Linked DNA regions of Homo sapiens. The protein of the gene in region 6 purifies or fractionates together with the protein of the main gene of each other region. This does not show direct contact. Each region holds a gene or a part of one and is shown on either strand. Other genes may lie near its edges.

Region 1 (3,500 bases), on a different chromosome or scaffold from region 6:
GTCTTGTGCCTCTTGCCTCCTCTGGATCCTAGGAGTTCTCTTCATTCATCAGCGATAGAAAAGTAATGGAAGATTGAATGTGAGGTTTTTATGGTCCAGGCCTTTTACTCACATTTTATTGGCCATAACTCAATTAGCCATGTGACCTCACCTAACTGCAGCAGGAATGGAAACTATATTCTGATTGTATGCCTAAAAGGAAGATAATACAGGATTTGGCAGAAACATGTCAGTATGCCCCATTTATACCATATATTCACAAACACAGGATAACTGTAAATATAAGACATACCTACATTTTCACAATGAGACTATCCAAATAAAGGGTTTTTTGTGCTTAGCTTGTATGCTTAAAATATTTACTAGTTTATTTACATATACAACTCTATGTAATATATAAAATAATACATTCATTTAGAAATACTACCTTATTCAAATCTCAGTTTTTATGAAACAGGTTTTTGTTTTGTTTTGTTTTGTTTTTTTTATTTTTATTATTATTACACTTTAAGTTTTAGAGTACATGTGCACAACGTGCAGATTTGTTACATATGTATACATGTGCCATGTTGGTGTGCTGCACCCATTAACTCGTCATTTACCATTAGGTATATCTCCTAATGCTATCCCTCCCCACTCCCCCCACCCCACAACAGTCCCCGGTGTGTGATGTTCCCCTTCCTGTGTCCATGTGTTCTCATTGTTCAATTCCCACCTATGAGTGAGGACATGCGGTGTTTGGTTTTTTGTCCTTGCGATGGTTTGCTGAGAATGATGGTTTCCAGTTTCATCCATGTCCCTACAAAGGACATGAACTCATCAGTTTTTATGGCTGCATAGTATTCCATGGTGTATATGTGCCACATTTTCTTAATCCAGTCTATCATTGTTGGACATTTGGGTTGGTTCCAAGTCTTTGCTATTGTGAATAGTGCCGCAATAAACATACGTGTGCATGTGTCTTTATAGTAGCATGATTTATAATCCTTTGGGTATATACCCAATAATAGGATGGCTGGGTCAAATGGTATTTCTAGTTCTAGATCCCTGAGGAATCGCCACACTGACTTCCACAATGGTTGAACTAGTTTACAGTCCCACCAACAGTGTAAAAGTGTTCCTATTTCTCCACATCCTCTACAGTTTTTTTTAAACTTTTCATCTCTACAGCCACTCTTTGAATATTGTAACAGATTTCTAGAGCACATGTGATTTGTGTAAGATAAGGGTTGTTTTGATTTCTGTCTAGATAATGTTTTGTAAATATTATCCCAAACAGTGCACTGGTTTATATAACATTTTTACATTTGTTTTCTTAAAGAGGTCTTTAAAAGGCTTCTGACAGGCCGAGCACGGTGGCTCATGCCTGTAATCCCAGCACTTTGGGAGGCTGAGGTGGGTGGATCGTCTGAGGTCAGGAGTTCGAGATCAGCCTGACCAATATGTCTCTACTAAAAATACATAAATTAGCCAGGCATAGTGGCACATGCCTGTAATCCCAGCTACTTAGGAGGCTGAGGCAGGAGAATTGCTTGAACCTGGGAGGTGGAGGTTGCAGTGAGCCAAGATCACGCCACTGCTCTCCATCCTGGGCAACAGAGCAAGACTCCGTCTTAAAAAAAAGAAGTCTTTTGACAATGATTCCTAACTTGCAATGGAGAAATTACATAGTCATAGGACTGATTAAGAAGTCTATATTAAGTTTTTTTGTCTCTCTTTTTCTTTCTGATTCCATCTCCTAAGTTCTGTAAGCAACTAAAATGTGCATTGATGCATATCTTTTCATACTAGTGTATCTTCGCCAAATAAGACTTGGTTCAAAATCATGTAAAATGTTAAGATACTATATGGACTAGAATACAAGTTGCCACCTTCATATCTGGAGATTAATGTTACAACTAAAAAAGAACTTTGTCTTATATTCTTGAGTAGACTTAGTACTATTTGCCTTGTAATAACCACTTTTGGTTCAATAACAGACGGGAGTGGAATCAACTTATAGCCTTTAAAAATGAGTAAGCACTATCAGTATTGTCAGACTCAGTGGAGTGTCTTAGCTAAGATGTGAATTTTCTGGCTACATCTGCTTCATGTACACAGATATCATAAGCTAATGATGTTCCTTTGAAAATACATGATGCCCTTCTTTTTTGCCTTCCATGCTAGTACAACAGAGTGATTCCTTTCTTTATGTTGTTATAAATAAGACAGCACAGCATAAATTAAGAGGCACTCAATAAACATCTACTTATAAGTGTTAGAAAGCATGTGTGTCAAAATTGACTACTTGTATATAAATTTTCAACTTCAAACTATTCCCTGTTAGACTTCAGTTTTAAATTGTGAAATATTCCATTTAAGAAAACAAAATTTCTTTTTTTAACATTGGTTTGAAAAAGATGAAATTTACTTCTCCTATATGCTCTTTAAGTATATAGTTATTATTATTTTTGCTTTCTCTTCCTAGATTTTCCACAGAATGAGCCTCAGATCAAGAATCAGTTTAATAAGAAGCTATCAGGAAGACTTGAAAATACAAAACAGCAATTGCAGCTGCCTCTTCATCCTTCATGGGAAGCAAGCAGAAGGCGAAAAGAACAGCAATCTAATATTGCTGTGTTTCAGGGGAAAAAAATTACGTTTGATGATTGATTAGTGCCTCTTTCTGCAAACTTTTCCATCTAAAAAAAAAAATGTTTTTTTTAAGACAGGATCTCATTCTGTTGCCCAGACTAGAGTACAATATTGCAATCACAGCTCACTGCAGCCTCAAACTCCTGGGCTCAAGTGATCCTCCCACCTCTGCCTCCCAAAGGGCTGGGACTGCAGGTGCATGCACTACCATGCCCAGCTTTCTCACCCCAGGCTCTGCAGCTATTACTTAAACTCGTATTTGAATAAGTCTCTTGGGGAGAATTATAGAATGTTTGTTTTTGTATTTTTTTTTAAAGTAAATTCAACTTACGCTTATATAAGCCTTTCACAAATCCAATATGTACTTAAATTGATTTTTAATAATATCCCTCAGACTGTTTCCCTTATGAAGTAATTTGGGGATTTTAGTGATCTCATATTTTCTCTTTAGTGCTTATCATGAAATGTGCTTCACTGGTTCAGCTCTGTTGTTTCCTTAAACATAAATGTCAATATATATTTAAAATAATAATGGAAACATAGGAAATCAGCTATTTAAACCAGATCACCCTTGTTAAAAATCATTCTTGTTAGCAAACTAAAATAGTAACTTTTATTATGGATGTACAGATAAATATTAATTTTATTATAGTTTTAAGTACTTGTGATCATGTACTTTTTGATTCTAAAATAGTTGTCTAGGACAATTTTGGGATTCTTAATTATATTTTAGTTAAGAAAATTGTTTAAATATAGCAATACAACCAATAATTTGTTTTATGTTTCACTGCATATAAATATTTCCATTAAATCAAGAATGTATATTATCTAGTTTTTACTATACTTATTTTAAAATTTTTGAGGAA
Region 2 (3,500 bases), on a different chromosome or scaffold from region 6:
AGAAATATAATAATAAACACCAGGCTTTATATATATATTCCCTTACCCCTTTTATCAAGTTCAGTGTACGTTTTGCTTATGTGACTCAGACATTAAACATTCATCTGTTAATGTTTCAGTAAAATATGAAACAAAATTAAGATTTGAAAGATATAAAGATTTCATGTCACATGCACATTTTTGAGAATTTAAGACAGACAGGGGAACTGTATTGGAAGCAAATTACCACAGTGATGAAGAACACAGTCTTCAGAATAACAGATCTTGGTTCAAACCCTGACCATATGACTAGTAAGCTCTGCGAACTTAGATACTTATGTATCCTCTCTGAGACCACCTAAATTACCCTCAATTTAGGTAATTACCTAAATTACCCTCTCTGAGACCACCTAAATTACCCATCTATGACACAGAGATAATACCACCTACCACAAGGTTGTTTTGAAGATTAAATTAAGTACTGCATGCAAAGAGCCTGACACAGTGCCTGGGACATAGTAAATACTCAACAGTGGTAGTTATCAAAGATGATTATTACTGAGGAATTCCTGACTTGGTGATACGACAGAAGACCTTCAATAAAGGGAAAAATATCTGCCTTGAAAAGATTAAGTTGGCCTATCACAATGTGGTATCTAATAGGACCTTTCTGTATAATTTCCTGCCTATTTTAGTACTGATGTCTATTACTCTAGTCGAAGCCCCATTTCCAAATTTATTATTGGAGCTAACATTCTCAGTCCACCATTGTCTTGATTTATAGAACAGGCTCCCATTCAGTCTGCCTGCTTTATGAATTTCTGTGATATTTTATCCTCCACAGAACCCACTATTTTCACTGAGTTGCCACACTGCTCAATACCTGGCAGAATGCCTTGTATGTGATTGGTCTTGGCAAGTAAAAATCTGCTAGTTGACTAACAGTAGCCCTAACAGTAGCCCTTCCTTATATCAAATACCCCACAAAAAAATCTTCCTTTTCCTGTCTCTAAACCAAACCACCTTCCTTATTTACTAATCTTCTGGTTTCATCTCCACCTACTTTCCAACATGGCATCTCTAACTCCGAATTTATCAATTCTAATTGTCAAATCATGACAGTTTGGTTCATATCATTTGTTTCTTCTGTCCTTTTCTTCCCACTCTGCATAATATCACAATTCTTCCATTCTCAAACATAATCACATACTTTAGCAAACTACTTTAAGAAAAAGTTTAAATTTAACTTCCAATTAGTCTTCCTTACTCCAATTACACTCATCACTCTATTATACCATGCTCCCATAATACACATATGCAGTTTACCTTGCATGTATTTATCCATTCCTTTTTAATAGTCCTTTAGTTTTCCAGTATATCCTTTATCTTCCAAATCAGACTGTAATTCCTTGAGGGAATACCTTAGCACCGCTCCTTCTGTGCCCCTCACGACACCTACCACACTGCTCCATAGATGTGGTATCCAATAAATGCTTAATTAATAATGGTTTATACGTGCAGACTATTTTTGTTTCAAATGCGAAACAAACTTGTTGCAAAAAACACAAAAAATAAGGCCAAGAAAAAAACACGGTATTGTAAATTAGAAAGTCCGAGTTAAGTGAAAAAAAGAAGTGCCTTATTAAAAATAACACAATGAACACTACAAAAAAAAATGAGGGACAATGATAGAATAACACTCAAATGTCAAGAAATAAAATGCCATATTTACTGTTATAGTAATTCTAATAAAATCTAGTGAAGAAACAAATTGATATCATTAATGTTACATGAATATTTTTGAGATCTAGGAAACCAAAGTGAGGAAAACACCCACTTTGTTCTATCCTAGATTTATCACTTAGGAAACACTTGGCAAGTCATTTAATCTCTCTGATTCACCACATATAAAATGGGGATCAGTCCATTTGCCTTACCTTTTATGAAACTGTTGTGAGATAAGGAAGCTAACATATATGAAAAGTAGTTTATAAACTCTAAAAGGTTAATCAAAGATAAGATACTAATCAGGCCGGGCACGGTGGCTTACACCTGTAATCCCAGCACTGTGGTAGGCCGAGGTGGGTGGATCACTTGAGGTCAAGAGTTCAAGACCAGCCTGACCAACATGGTGAAACCTAGTCTCTACTAAAATGCAAAAATTAGCTGGGCGTGGTGATGGGCACCTGTAATCTCAGCTACTTGGGAGGCTGAGGCCAGAGAATCACTTGAACCCAGGAGGCGGAGGTAGCAGTGAGCCAAGATCGTCCCATTGCACTCCAGCCTGGGCAACAAGAGCAAAACTCCGTCTAAAAAAAAAAAAAAAAAACTACTCAAAAATAAGATATTGTTAAACTGCCCACAGCTCAACAGTCAACTCAAAACCTGTATACCTAGGTTTTCTGCATTCACATGACAAAAGCCCATTGGCCATATAAGCACATAATAGCATCGCTATTAACAGCATTAAGAATGAAGAGTCATAATATGAAAGGTGATTTATATATTTTCTACAGAATTGTTCACACTCTTATTCACTTTTATTATCTTGAAAACCAACAAAACTAAAGTGTGTTACATGAGGGATCTAAGGGGACAATTTTCAGCAAAAGTTCCACACCTAATTTTTTGTTTTTCAGTAAAAGTTCCATGCCTAACTCTTAAAGCAAAAGTTCCATGCCTTTAATTTTAAGAAAGGATAATTAATTACACTTTACAGATAAGACAAAATATGGCAACTTCTCTTATTACAGACTATGATGATGACACTGTGAAAACTGAGCATAGCAAATGATCTAGTCAGTGGTTCTCTATTACATTCTGTGATGGGGGCCCTATAGAGTGAATGAAATACATTAACCAGTACTGGACAACCTGGAAGATATAAGTCAAAATACTTAATTAAAGGTATAAGCGAAGAGAAGAAATTATTCTTCGGAAATTTTTTCTACATCAATAAACTATCGTTTTACTGTTCTCAACATTATAATTTGGTGAGATTCCTAGCACTACGGAAAACACAAGCAATAAAAACACAACACTGTCCTCACTTTCCATTAAAAACAACCACAGTATTTTTGGAGTTCTGCCAAGGTTGAAGTTAATACCTAATGAGAAAATATAAAGACACCCAAAAGCTCCTAAAACTCCACTGACATCCTCAGAAAGCAAAATTCTGTTCATCTAAAAGGGTTATCTTTCCCCAAATTTAAAACTTTATACTGTGGTAAAAGACATTTTCTTAAAAAGATATTCAACCTTTCAGAGAAAACCTCAGAATCCAGTAATAGTTCAATTCTACTAATTTAAAAGTGTTTGAAAACTATAAAAACACATTTACCAATTACAAAACAATGTAGCTGCATTATAAGCCTTCAAATGAACCTTGGAGTTCTAAGATATTACAATGATTTTAACATACACAGGTGCTCCTCGACTTATGATGGGGTTACGTCCTGATAAACCCAATATAGTAAGACAAAGTGCATTTAATACCCCAATAAAACCATTACAAAGTTGAA
Region 3 (3,500 bases), on a different chromosome or scaffold from region 6:
GAGTCATATTTGTCATTTTCTTACACCTGTTCTGCATTCTTTTGGCACTTACAGTATAATTTCTAAACACCTAACATTTTGCTGCTTGTTTAAAATCATCTGCAGGTTTGGAGATTTTTGCCATGTACCTTATTCAGATTAGTGGTAAAACAGTGAAATCAAAGAATTCCCTTTAACTATGTCTTGGCAATCCAACTGTTTATCTTCCTGTTTTGAAATATACCTATTTTGGCCAGGCACGGTAGCTCACGCCTATAATCCCAGCATTTTGGGAGGCCGAGGCGGGTGGATCATCTGAGGACAGGAGTTCGAGACCAACCTGGCCAAAATGGTGAAACCTAATCTCTACTAAAGATACAAAAATTAGCCAGGCATGATGGCGGGCACCTGTAATCCTTCCTACTCGGGAGGCTGAAGCAGTAGAATTGCTTGAACCTGGGAAGCGGAGGTTGCAGTGAGCTGAGATTGTGCCGCTGCACTCCAGCCTGGGTGACAGAGCAAGACTCCGTCTCAAAAAAAAAAAAAAAAAAAAGAAATATGCCTATTTATTCCTACCCTTTATTGGATAAACAGTTCATATGAATAAAGTTTGTTTTTAGAGATAATGTTTCAAGGTAAGACATAGATAAAATTTAACTTTGTCTTTCCTTGTGAATAGTGATAAACCTCTTTAAAAATCCGACCAAAGCAGTTCTGTTAATCCTTTCCCCACCAAAATGCACACATAAACAAAACTTTTGCATATTATGCAGAGGAATTCATATAACCCATGTTCAGAACCCTTAGTTTGTACTAGTTTTTGTTTCCTTTAACATTTCAGGAAATCCCCTCAGAATGGCACATTGAACTGATGTTAGACAGAGGGATCCCAGTGGAGCTGTGGGCACATTATGTAGAAGAGCTCAACAGCACTCAGAGGGTGGCCGTGGAGGACTCGGTTTTTCTTGTATTTTCCTTGAAAAAATTTATTTATGCACTGAAAGCTCCTAAATCTTTTCCTAAAGGTAAGATACAAGCTGTGAATCTTTTAAATGTGATACTCTGCAAAACTGAATGATTGACTCCACAATGACTGTCTTGAATAAAAAGCTCCCAGCATGTTCATGTAGGATCTAGCATCATTTCTCTTTCCATGTCCTTGTAGGTGATATATGGTGGAATCCTGAACAACTGAAAGAAGACAGCAGGGACTATCTGCACTTGCTCATTGGGCTGTTTGAGATGATGCTCAATGGTGCCGATGCTGTTCATTTCAGAGTTCTGATGAAACTTTTCATAAAGGTACAAGCCTCCTCCTTTTCAGGCGTACTCTACCCTTAAAGAAGATATGGCTGGCCTGCAATCCCAGCACTTTGGGAGGCCGAGGCAGGCGGATCACTTGAGGTCAGGAGTTCAATACCAGCCTGGCCAACATAGTGAAACTCCATTTCTACTAAAAATACAAAAATTAGCCAGGCATGGTGATGGGGCCTGTAATCCCAGCCACTTGGGAGGCAGAGGCAGGAGAATTCGCTTGAACCCGGGAGGCAGAGGTTGCAGTGAGCCGAGATCACACCACCGTACTCCAGCCTGGGTGACAAGAGTGAGACTCTGTCTCAAAAAAAAAAGATGGGCTGGGCGCAGTAGCTCACGCCTATAATCCGAGCACTTTGGGAGGCCAAGGTGGGTGGATCACGAGGTCAGGAGATCGAGACCATCCTGGCTAACATGGTGAAACGCCGTCTCTACGAAAAATACAAAAAAAATTAGCCGGGTGTGGTGGCGGGCTCCTGAAGTCCCAGCTACTCGGGAGGCTGAGGCAGGAGAATGGCATGAACCTGGGAGGTGGAGCTTGCAGTGAGCGGAGATCGCTCCACTGCACTCCAGCCTGGGCGACAGAGCGAGACTCCATCTCAAAAAAAATAATAAATAAATAAAAAGATACTGTGGGTTATTTGGGTTATGACAGTTTATAATGTAAACAAAAGTAGACTTGTAAACAGTGAAGAGTATATAATAGCACGGGCCCTGTAAAAGAGTACAATCACAATACTAATCGGTAGGTTGAATAGAAACTAACATTGCTACACTCCTACTAATATGTTAGGCCCATTACTATATTTAAAAATAACAACAGCCCAGTCTTTTTGATTGGTTAATACCATTTAAAAATGTGAATACTGGTGTTCAGAGAGGTTATTTAGCACACGTGAAGTTACTCAGGAAATTTCATCCCCAGCACCAGTGACCTCCATGTTGCCAGGCCCAGTGGTCAGTTCCTGTTCTTGCCTGACTTGTTCTCTCTACAGCATTTGACATGGAGTTGGCATTGCTCAGCACATTGTTGAAGTATTTTCTTAATTAGGCGTCCCAGATACTGCTCTTGTCTTGGTTCTGTGTTTTCAAGTGCAAGGTTATAGTGAGGCTTCTGAATATCACTCTTCATTGACATCTTCCCAGTTCATTAAAACATGGAATATGGAATAATTTGAAATGATTAGACAAAGCAAAACTTTGCCTTAAATTATTTGTTTCTTTATAATTGTACACTAGTGAGAAGAGGATTTGGAACCAGCTTATTTGAGTAAGAATTAAAAGTTTGCTTTTTTTTTTTTTTAATTAGGTGCATCTAGAAGATGTTTTTCAGTTATTCAAGTTCTGTTCTGTTTTATGGACCTATGGTTCTAGCCTTTCAAATCCACTAAACTGCAGTGTGAAAACAGTGCTGCAGACTCAAGCTCTTTATGTGGGCTGTGCAATGCTTTCTTCTCAGAAGACACAGTGTAAACACCAACTGGCATCCATATCTTCTCCAGGTATTAAAAGTAGCATTGTTATGTTTTGTCATGACCAACTGTTCATGCTTTCTCTATATGGTTTATGTAGTTTGGAAAATTATAACTTAAAAAAAAATAGCAGAGGGCAGGCGCGGTATCTCACGCCTGTAATCCCAGCACTTTGGGAGGCCGAAGCAGGCAGATCATGAGGTCAGGAGATCAAGACCATCCTGGGCAACATGGTGAAACCCCGTCTCTACTAAAAATACAAAAATTAGCTGGGCGTGGTGGCATGTGCCTGTAATCCCAGCTACTTGGGAGGCTGAGGCTGGAGAATTGCTTGAACCAGGGAGTTGGAGGTTGCAGTGAGCCGAGATTGTGCCACTGCACTCCAGCCTGGTGACACAGCGAGACTCCATCTCAAAAAAAAAAAAAATCGATAAAGGCCAGGCGAGGTGGCTTACACCTATAGTCTCAGCACTTTGGGAGGCTAAGGCAGGAGGATCACTTGAGGCCAAGAGTTCAAGACCAGCTTGGACAACGTGATGAGATCCTGCCTCTACAAAAAATACAAAAATTAGCTGGGCGTGATGGTGCGTGCCTGTAGTCCCAGCTACTCAGTTGCCTGAGGTAGGCAGATGGCTTGTGCCTGGGAGGTCAAGGCTGCAGTGAGCTGTGATTGCACCACTGCACTCCAAACTGGGCAACAGAGCAAGACCCTGTCTCAAAAAAAAAAAAAAAGGG
Region 4 (3,500 bases), on a different chromosome or scaffold from region 6:
AAGAGTGCTTAACTTGGGTTCCGTGGTCCAGTTTCATGGGGCTTATGAATTCCCTAGAATTGTATGTGATATTTTAGGAAATACACGTTTATCTAGGGAGCTACTCTGTAGCTTTTGGTTAACTTTAGTGGGGTCTGTGGCCCAGCTGAGATTATGAATTACTGACCTGAAGACAACCTTACAGCTGGTAATGACAGCTCTATAGGCCTGTACTGTCTTAGAGGCTCTTATGTTGAAGTCAAGTAGGAAGGTGGATTTTCTTCTTGAATTTATAGTGTTTTGCCCCTTAATAAATTAAGTGGCCATCACAATTTTATATTATAACTTTGTTTTCAGGATTGCCAATGTCCGTGCTGAAATTTGTTAAAATTTAACAGAAATTTATGTAACATGATTCTATTTAGTGGTAAATCTCTTTAGAGTTTTTTAAAGAACTTTTTGAAATTTTAAAAATTAAAGTGCCTTTGCTTCCATATTCAGCAGCTAAGTGGAATTGTTTATATACTAGAAAATATAATTTTAAGGCTATCCTTTAATTTTTTTTAACTTTACAATATAGGAGTATTTACACTTCTTAATTGGTTTGGGGGCAAACACTTGTAAGTTTTCTCTTTCTTTCATGATTTCCCCCTATGAAGACTCCCTGAAACTCAGCTGCTTTTTTTTTAATCTGAGAAAAAGGAGCATTTTATGTTAGAAGGTATCAGAAAAATAATTTTCTTGCTTTTTAATATACTGACCTTCAATCTTTCAGAGCAGTTCATACAGTAGATTTTACAGCTGACAAATATCACGTGGTCTCTGGGGCTGATGATTATACAGTTAAATTATGGGATATTCCAAACTCCAAAGAAATTTTGACATTTAAAGAACACTCTGATTATGTGAGGTGTGGATGTGCTAGCAAACTTAATCCGGATCTCTTTATAACAGGTTGGTGAACTCTATTCCCTCCTGAAGCAAATAATCTCACGGGGATGTACTTTAATGTTGCTATGGGACTCTTTTGGGATGGAGGGGTTTAAATTTTTTTTATAAAGGAATATGTTTCTGATTAATTCTTCAGTTTTTAAATTAATTTTTATGTATGTATGTTTGCATTTATTTTCAGACAGGGTCTCACTCTGTTGCCCAGGCTGGAGTGCAGTGATGTGACCATAGCTCACTGCATCTGCTACCTCCTGGGCTCAAGTGATCCTCCCACATAAGCCTCCCAAGTAGCTGGGACTACAGGTGCCCACCACCACGTCCAGCTACTTTGTGTATTTTTTTGTAGAGACGGTTTTGCCATGTTGCCCAGGCTGGTCTCGAACTCCTGGGCTCAAGTGATCCACCTACCTCAATTTCCTCCCGGAGGACTGGGATTACAAGTGTGAGCCACCATGCCTGGCTTCCAATTGTTTTTTATTTTCTTATTCTTCTTTTGTTGATTGTTCATGTCTTCCAAATGTGTTTGGAAAAATCAGGCTGTCTTGAAAACATAATAGACTCTCAGAACTGTAATGTATAGTACCCTGCCTCAAGCAGCCAAGAAACAAAGAGTGCAGTTTAGCCTTTGTGGGTGCCTTTACAAAGATTTCCAGATGATTCAGTAGTGACAGTAGTCCAAAGAAAGAAATATTTTAAGATCAGAGCAAGTTAGATTCTGTATAGTATTATGTAGTGCTTCTTCAGACACGATCAGTAGTAGATGGTTTGGAGGTCCTGTGTCTTCATGAATATACATATATGTCTTTTTAAAACTCCATCTAAGCTTTTTTTCCTTTTAAAATTTATATCTGGATACACACAGTTTTTGTTGTTTTAAACAGTCAAACTAAAAATTCAAAAATTGACATTTTAGGATCATATGATCATACTGTGAAGATGTTTGATGCACGAACGAGTGAGAGTGTTCTCTCCGTTGAGCATGGGCAGCCAGTGGAGAGTGTCCTACTTTTCCCCTCTGGAGGTCTTCTGGTGTCAGCAGGTACTTCTTAAAAATAGCTTTCACCAATATTGTTGGTTTTGAATCACGTTTGTTTAAAATCAGTTGCTCTTTGTAATTTATCAGTGTGCATTTGAATTGCATATCTAAGTCTTTGTTCAAACAGTTGATAGGTAGGACTGGCAAGCAGTTATCATTTATTGTGTACCTAATGTGAGCCAGGCACTGTGCTGTTACATATGAACTCTAATGCCCTAGATGATGCTACAAGGTAGTTAGCTTTTTCCCTACTTTACAGCAATGAAATAAAAGTTTTAACTTATTTTTCAAGGCAAAGTGGTAAGTGGCAGATCTGAAATCACAGAACTCGAGAGCTCTGTGTATTTAGCCCTGTGCCATCTTATTTATTTAGCCCTGTGCCATCTTATTTAACCCCAGAAATTTAGCCCTGTGCCATCTTATTTAACCCCAGAAATTTAGCTCTTATGTATTTAGCCCTGTGCCATCTTATTTAACCCCAGAAATTTAGCTCATACTCCTTTTACTCCTACCTAAGAGATCTGCAGCAGCTTTTGAAAATCAGTTATTTGAGATCTAGTAGGCTTGTCTCTTTTTCTGTGACTCTCTTGATTGAAATGCCACTACCCAGCAAATAGCTGCTAGTACTAGAGAAAGGAGATAATGTGGCCTCAAAAGGGGCCTTGGTACATTTTTCAACAAGTTGGGACTGAGATGTTTTTCTCATTTTGCACATATTGCATTTTCATAATTACAGTGGAAGAAGTAAATTGGCTTTTTTCATTTGTAAATAAAGTAAAAATGTGTTCATATTAGAAGAATGTATAGGTAGTATGTATACTTGACAACATATATATTGCTGTGTGTACCTCCTTTTTTTTTTTTTCTTAATTCTAAAATCTGGCTAGAAATTACTCTGTTTTATATTCTTTTCCCCAGTACCTATTTGATTTAAAAATAAGTTGAGGCGGGATGTGGTTGCTCACGCCTGTAATCCTAGCACTTTGGGAGGCTGAGGCAGGCGGATAGCTTGAGTCCAGGAGTTTGAGACCAGCCTGGGCAACATAGCAAGACTCTAAGACTCCATCTTTAATTAAAAAAAGAAAAAAGTTGATAATGTCAGATGTGTCTACTTTTCTTGCTGTTATTCTGACAAATGGAAAAAATATCATGTTGAACAGGGAGAATAGAAAGCTGTGTGCTGATCTCCACTGTGTGTCACTAGCTAATTGTGACCTCGGGCAATCCCTTAAGGTCTCTAGACCTTGAAAATGAGAGGGTTGGACTAGATCAGTGATTTCAACTGTGATCCCTCTTGTGAGGTGCCACATAGGAGTGGAGAGGTGGGAACTGTGAGTTGGGTTCCAACTCCTGTTCCCCAGTCAAGATTTCAGTCTCCCCTTCCATCCCTTTTTCTGTCTTTCCATATTAGACTTTTTTGCTTGATATTTTGCTGCAGATCTACATTATTCACTTCCACTGCTATATAGAATTTCTTTTAAAAAATGATTTTATTATAATTTTCTTAAAATGGACTCTTTCAGTTATACATTTA
Region 5 (2,539 bases), about 120 Mb from region 6:
TTTACATCAACATTCTGGAGTAATTATGCTCACAATCTATCTGCTTTCATTACAATGAATGTTTAGGATCCTCTAGTTCTAGAAACTCAGTATCAATAGGGCCATCCTCAACCAGGGGAAAACACCAAAGTCAGTGTTCAAGTGTCCCCCAAAACTCTTCAGGTCTCCAGTTTCCCAGGGTCCTAGAAAACCCATCCCCCCTCAAAAGTTTAGCCAGAAAATATTTGCTTTTAAAATTAGGCACATAGGTGAGAAATGTATATATGATAATTTTTACCATGACAGAGGAGGCTGGGATATAGTTTCAGTTCCAGGAACACCATGACAGGGAGAATTGGCTCTTATCCACTGTATAGAACAGCAATTAATTTAAAAAATCAAGCTTTGTTAATGGTGCTCTTGAGACCACTGACAGCCTAATGTTACCGGTTTTCCCTCTGTTTTGGAAAACACAGATCTAAACACAGTCCAATTACACTTTCATTTTCATTACACTTCAGTCAATTAAGCTATACATTTATTTATACAATAGTTATACTCAAAAGTGTCTTCAGGATGATTATGAAAGTTGCATTAAAACTGTATCGTTAAAAGCAGCTACCATGAACTATTACATTACTACGAAGAATATCCTTTGATATTAAATATTTTTTTCCTTCTAAAAGACTGGTATTACCCTTTGCATTACTTTTTTGTGACAGATTTATTGAAATATATAGTTCACGTGCAATGAAATCTACCCTTTGAAAGTGTACAATGCATTGTTTGTAATATATTTACAGAGTTGTGCAACCATCACTGCCATCTAATCTTAGAACATTTTTATCACTCAAAAGGAAATCCTATACTCATTAGCAGTCACTCCCCATTCTTCCTCCCCAAGTCCCTGGCAACCACAAATTTGCTTTCTGTCTTTATGGATTTGCCTGTTTTGGAAATTTCATATAAATGAGTTCATACAGTATGTGGCCTTTTGTGTCTGGCTTCTTTTACTTGCCTTCAAGGTTCATCTATCTTGTAGCATGTATCAGTACTTTATTCCTTTTTATGACCAAATAATATTCCATTGCACAGATATACCACGTTTTGCTTATCCATTCACCCAGTTGATAGTTGATAGACTTTGGGTGTTTATACTTTTTGGCTGTTAAGAATAATGCTTCTATTGACATTGTGTACAGTTTTTATGTGGAAATGTTTTCAATTCCTCTGGGTATATACCTAGGAGTAGATTATGTAACACTTCAAGGATTAAGTTAGTGGCAGGGATGAGAATAAGTTAAATATTACATTCGTAGATTTGTTATACTACCAAGGCTAAAGGGACATTATAAGGGGAAAAATAGTTCCCAAATAACAATAAGAGATAAAAATCAGAATAATAGGTTATAGTCTAGAGAAATGTTTATCTTATTCTTGTTCCAGTTTAAGTAAATATTAAATATTGTATAATTACTGGGAGATATATTTTAAAGCAATGAGAAAATATTATTATAAATATGTTTTGATCTTTTAAGATATAAATTTTTAGGTTCCTTTAGAGTAGAAAATAATAGCATTTAACAAAGATTCTTTTGGCTTAGTGATTTATGATTTCAATAAATATCTCCTGCTCTGTGTACACAACCCAACTGTTATTAAAGATTCTAAACTACATTTTAACAATTCAAAGTCACGTAATATGAAGAGCATTATAGGGCTTAAAGTAGTTTTAGAACAGAAATACAGAAAGATACTTTGTAAAACTGGAGAATAAGTGGTTTCTTCTTGATATGGGAGGCCAGAATCTTGAACTTTCAACTGGCAAACAACTTGCTACTTTCATCTGAGGTCAAAAAAACTAAGGCAAAACTAATGCCATTTGAGAAAGTTATGTCGTTTCTCTATTCTTAATATAAAGACAGCACACTGAGAGTTAAAATAATCAGCTAGGACTTTAGTTTGAAAAAAAAGGTCAAGTTTTTTGAGTTTTTTTACTTTTAAATTCAAACATACAGTAAATTGCAGATGTGGAACACAAAATAACATTCCCTACATGGTGAACATTTCTCTTCTACAGCCTAGTTGAATCTATTTTCAGTACCCATTTGGAACCAATCTTCCCAAGTTTTGAAGGATAAAAGTAGTAAGTGAAATTGCAAAGCTCACATCTAAGGTACTAGAAAAAAAACGCCATTATGTAATGGCTGCATTTTTTAAAGCCTGGTTCTGCTTACAGAATTACTTCAGTAACAATGAAAAGAGGCATGTTTTCATGTACTTTGCCTGGTTATACTTGCAGAGTACTCCATAATCTTTGGAAAAAAATTTAAAAAGACCAAAGTTTTATGCAACCTATGGCTTTTACTTTTTATTACCAATATACAAAGTACATAAAAAATATCCATTTTTACTCTACCTTCTCTGTCTTCCTATTTCCAGATGCTTTAAGTAGGAAAGAAAAGGCAAGGCAACAAAAAATTCCATCTATTATACTGAAGGCTGACGTTTCAATGTCTCATTTGTAAAGAGTCAGTAGTAAAAGTCATTAACTATCAAA
Region 6 (3,500 bases):
AAAAGTGACACCTCCTCAAGGGCATAATACCGAATTCTAGGCAAATCCAGGGTTAGAATCCAAATGTTCCCTTGCTCTTCCGTTAACAGCATACTGCCTTTTGAAAAGAGGGAGTGTAGGTAGAAGTGTAGCATAGTATAATGTAGCATGGATGTTGTGATTAGATAAGGAATCCACTCTCGTACTGTGGCTATAATAACCACTTAACAGATCTTTGCTGTGTGCCAAGAACTTGGCTTAGAGCTTTGTACCCATTATCTTACTCTTCAAAAGAACACTGTAAGATAAGCCTGTTGTCTATATTTTATAGGTGAAGAAACAGGCCCAGAGAGATTAAGTGGTTGTCCCTAGTCACTGTTGTTATAACTTGTGCTTTTTTAAAATCACAATCCTATGCTGCCTTGATGTTCTTTTAAGAACACAGTCCTAGTTGTCTTTCATTCACAGCGTTGCCCTCTAAGCTCGAAATAAGCTTTAAGAAGTCATTTAGGTGACTAAAAATAGTAAATAATGACCAGCCAGTTTGACTAAGTAGTTTCCTGTCTATTTTTCCTTGCCCCAGGTGGGGCGTTTCACGGCCTTTCCATTTTTTATTTTCAAAAGTAGGCAGGAATCTGGGTTCTATACAAGTTTCCTACAGAGTTTGATACAGTAGGCTTTTGAGTATCATTGATTGGTGACCTGTATTATCCTCATTTTGTACCAATGTACTAGTGGGTTGACTACTACACAGAATGTTCTCTAAAGTCACACAAGGGCAAAGGTGATATATTAGAACTCTTTGCGTCCTGTGGCCATTAGAGGTAGAGCACTCAATTGTTTGTCATTCTACGTGATTATCAGTTGCCTGTTGTTCAAGATGCTATTGTAAAATGTACAGCATGTCAGAAATTCTTATATACATCACTTTGTCCTCATGCAAGAATAAATTTGTGGTTTCCTTCCCGCTAGGTTTATTCTTAACACTAAAATTAACATGCCACACGAAGACTGCATTACAGCTCTCTGTTTCTGTAATGCAGAAAAATCTGAACAGCCCACCTTGGTTACAGCTAGCAAAGATGGTTACTTCAAAGTATGGATATTAACAGATGACTCTGACATATACAGTAAGTTATTAAATATGTTATGTTTAAAGTGTGCACAATTTTAGGAATTAATTTCTTTTTCTCATGACTTGTATCCATCCTGGGAGGACATTTTCTACTTTATTGAATTCTACAGGATATTGCTTAATCTTAATAGATTTAAGAGATTACATTTTACATGCCTTTTTCCTCAAATCTGTTCTTTTTAAATGGCATTCTTGATTAATCATGTGCTGATTATTCTGTTTTTTTAGGGTAAAGTAAAAGGGGCTTTTACCAAGAGTCCTTTCACTCCTCCACTAGAGGGAGGTCAAGGTCTCCAGGAGAGGGCATAAATTTCAGAACAGTCAGTATTTTGTAGCAGTTCTGACTTAAAGAAGTTGTGGGGAACAGGTTTTCTTGTTTTGTGTCTTTGTTTCTTTTTTATTTTATTTGTTATTTGTGTGTGCATCTTTGTTTCTTAATCCCTACTGCTTATAATGTCCCTCATTTAGCAGTCTCCCTTTAACAGTGGGGGATACAATCCAAGACCCCCCCGCCCCAGTTGATGCCTGAAACTGCAGATAGTACCGAACCCTGTATATACTGTTTTTTTCCTATACATACATACCTGAGATAAAGTTTAATTTATAAATTAGGCACAGTAAGAGGTTAATAACTAATAATAGAATGATTACAATAATATACTGTAATAAAAAGTGAATATGTGCATGCTCTGTGTCTGCCTTTCTCTCTCTTTCAAAATATCTTTTTGTACTGTACACAGCTATTTTCAGACCTCAGTTGACCCCTAGGAACTGAAACCACAGAAAGTGAACCCTCAGATAATGGGAAACTAGGGGGAACTACTGTAGCATTCTCTAGCATTTACACAATTTCTGAACATTATGGCTTATATTTCCACAGAAAAAGCTGTTGGCTGGACCTGTGACTTTGTTGGTAGTTATCACAAGTATCAAGCAACTAACTGTTGTTTCTCCGAAGATGGTTCTTTACTAGCAGTTAGTTTTGAGGAAATAGTCACAATATGGGATTCTGTAACATGGGAACTTAAATGTACATTTTGCCAACGAGCTGGGAAAATAAGGTAGGTAAATCTTCGGGAAGTATGTAGTACTATTTTTTAACTTATTTAAACAAGTCTTAAAACTTTAGTAGTCATTTATGCCCTCTCCAAAAGTAGCCTGAAGGTCAGTGGGGCAAGCAGCTAATCAAAATGCTGGAAAGCCAAAAATTCTGAGTCCACAAACTGTGCCAACATTTCTGAAATTCAGGTTAACATTTAACTCTTGGCCTACATATTTTTTCTTTGGAATACTTTCATGGATGTGCTGAATGGTAACAGAAGCTATACATAAGCCTCAGGGGATCCAAACCTTCTTATTTTCTGTGTATTCCCATAAAAACCGTGTTATGCGCCAACCTCATTGTTTCCGAGAGGTGCAGGGGAAAGTAGCAGCAGCATTTTCAGGTCCTGCTTCAGGTAGTTGGGCCTGAGGACAGAATCAGATGCCTAATGAGATCGTCTCTAATTCCCAGCATGTCTGATTCTGAATTTACTTTGTAAAACTTTCTTCACAATTGAAATCGCAAGTTTTCTTCTTCTTGGTAAATAGGATTTTTGTCAGATGACTGTACGTTTCATGTACATTTTCTCTGTTAGATGTAAATTGGTATACCGCACAGTGTGTTAAAGAATTGGTCATCCGTTCTGTTTTCCTAAAGAAATAGCTAACTAGACCCTTCCTTTTGTACTCCTTAGACACTTTTTTCTTCAGGATAATTATAAACAAAAATATATATGTCTATATAAAAATCTGCATTACATAGAACAGCCGCTGGAAGCCTGCAGTTCTTTGTAACTGAATTTGCTAGAACTGACTGTTGCTAACTTCCTTGTGGTTTTAATCTAGGCACCTTTGCTTTGGGAGATTGACGTGTTCAAAGTATCTACTTGGTGCTACTGAAAATGGCATTCTTTGCTGTTGGAATCTGCTGAGCTGTGCATGTAAGATATTTTTTACTCTAAAGTGATCTGGCAAAGCGCATAAGGAGTTGACATTAAACTTTGGCATTTTAGGACTTAGGGATCATATCATCAGGTCTGTACTTGGAATAGTCAGTTTTTTACGTGACATATGATGCCACCAAAATTTGGAATACTGGGCCTGTAATAGACATTATTTATTAACTGCTTAATTGTTGGTACGTCAGCTTCCATTATCCTTACCTTTTTCTACTGTTTTCAGTGTGTGTGACTTTCTGATGCCCTCCATATTCCCCATCCTCGTAACAATTTGAATAATGTTTTCTGCTCATTTTTAATACTTACTAATCTACATTATCCCTGACAGCTTAAATTCAAATGTAGTCTATCACAGTCCTAACAAATGTGAACTTAGTGGCATTTTA

The links.
Region 1: the proteins of WDR75 (region 6) and SRFBP1 purify together in Homo sapiens (co-immunoprecipitation; one large-scale study listed by IntAct). This does not show direct contact.
Region 2: the proteins of WDR75 (region 6) and CHM purify together in Homo sapiens (co-immunoprecipitation; one large-scale study listed by IntAct). This does not show direct contact.
Region 3: the proteins of WDR75 (region 6) and HEATR1 purify together in Homo sapiens (affinity purification with mass spectrometry; one large-scale study listed by BioGRID and IntAct). This does not show direct contact.
Region 4: the proteins of WDR75 (region 6) and UTP15 purify together in Homo sapiens (affinity purification with mass spectrometry; one large-scale study listed by BioGRID and IntAct). This does not show direct contact.
Region 5: the proteins of WDR75 (region 6) and APLF purify together in Homo sapiens (co-immunoprecipitation; one large-scale study listed by IntAct). This does not show direct contact.

What each region holds. Positions count from the first base shown.
Region 1 is NC_000005.10:122,024,475-122,027,974, forward strand, and holds part of SRFBP1 (serum response factor-binding protein 1), read left to right. Parts: intron 1-2,467; coding exon 2,468-2,652; 3' UTR 2,653-3,500. UniProt on the Homo sapiens protein: May be involved in regulating transcriptional activation of cardiac genes during the aging process. May play a role in biosynthesis and/or processing of SLC2A4 in adipose cells.
Region 2 is NC_000023.11:85,964,059-85,967,558, forward strand, and holds part of CHM (rab proteins geranylgeranyltransferase component A 1), read right to left. Parts: intron 1-3,500. UniProt on the Homo sapiens protein: Substrate-binding subunit of the Rab geranylgeranyltransferase (GGTase) complex.
Region 3 is NC_000001.11:236,580,517-236,584,016, reverse strand, and holds part of HEATR1 (HEAT repeat-containing protein 1), read left to right. Parts: intron 1-820; coding exon 821-1,004; intron 1,005-1,144; coding exon 1,145-1,281; intron 1,282-2,602; coding exon 2,603-2,795; intron 2,796-3,500. UniProt on the Homo sapiens protein: Ribosome biogenesis factor; required for recruitment of Myc to nucleoli. Involved in nucleolar processing of pre-18S ribosomal RNA. Required for optimal pre-ribosomal RNA transcription by RNA polymerase I.
Region 4 is NC_000005.10:73,568,743-73,572,242, forward strand, and holds part of UTP15 (U3 small nucleolar RNA-associated protein 15 homolog), read left to right. Parts: intron 1-754; coding exon 755-933; intron 934-1,843; coding exon 1,844-1,969; intron 1,970-3,500. UniProt on the Homo sapiens protein: Ribosome biogenesis factor. Involved in nucleolar processing of pre-18S ribosomal RNA. Required for optimal pre-ribosomal RNA transcription by RNA polymerase I.
Region 5 is NC_000002.12:68,578,124-68,580,662, reverse strand, and holds the end of APLF (aprataxin and PNK-like factor), read right to left. Parts: 3' UTR 501-2,539; downstream 1-500. UniProt on the Homo sapiens protein: Histone chaperone involved in single-strand and double-strand DNA break repair.
Region 6 is NC_000002.12:189,465,474-189,468,973, forward strand, and holds part of WDR75 (WD repeat-containing protein 75), read left to right. Parts: intron 1-951; coding exon 952-1,109; intron 1,110-1,994; coding exon 1,995-2,175; intron 2,176-3,001; coding exon 3,002-3,096; intron 3,097-3,500. UniProt on the Homo sapiens protein: Ribosome biogenesis factor. Part of the small subunit (SSU) processome, first precursor of the small eukaryotic ribosomal subunit.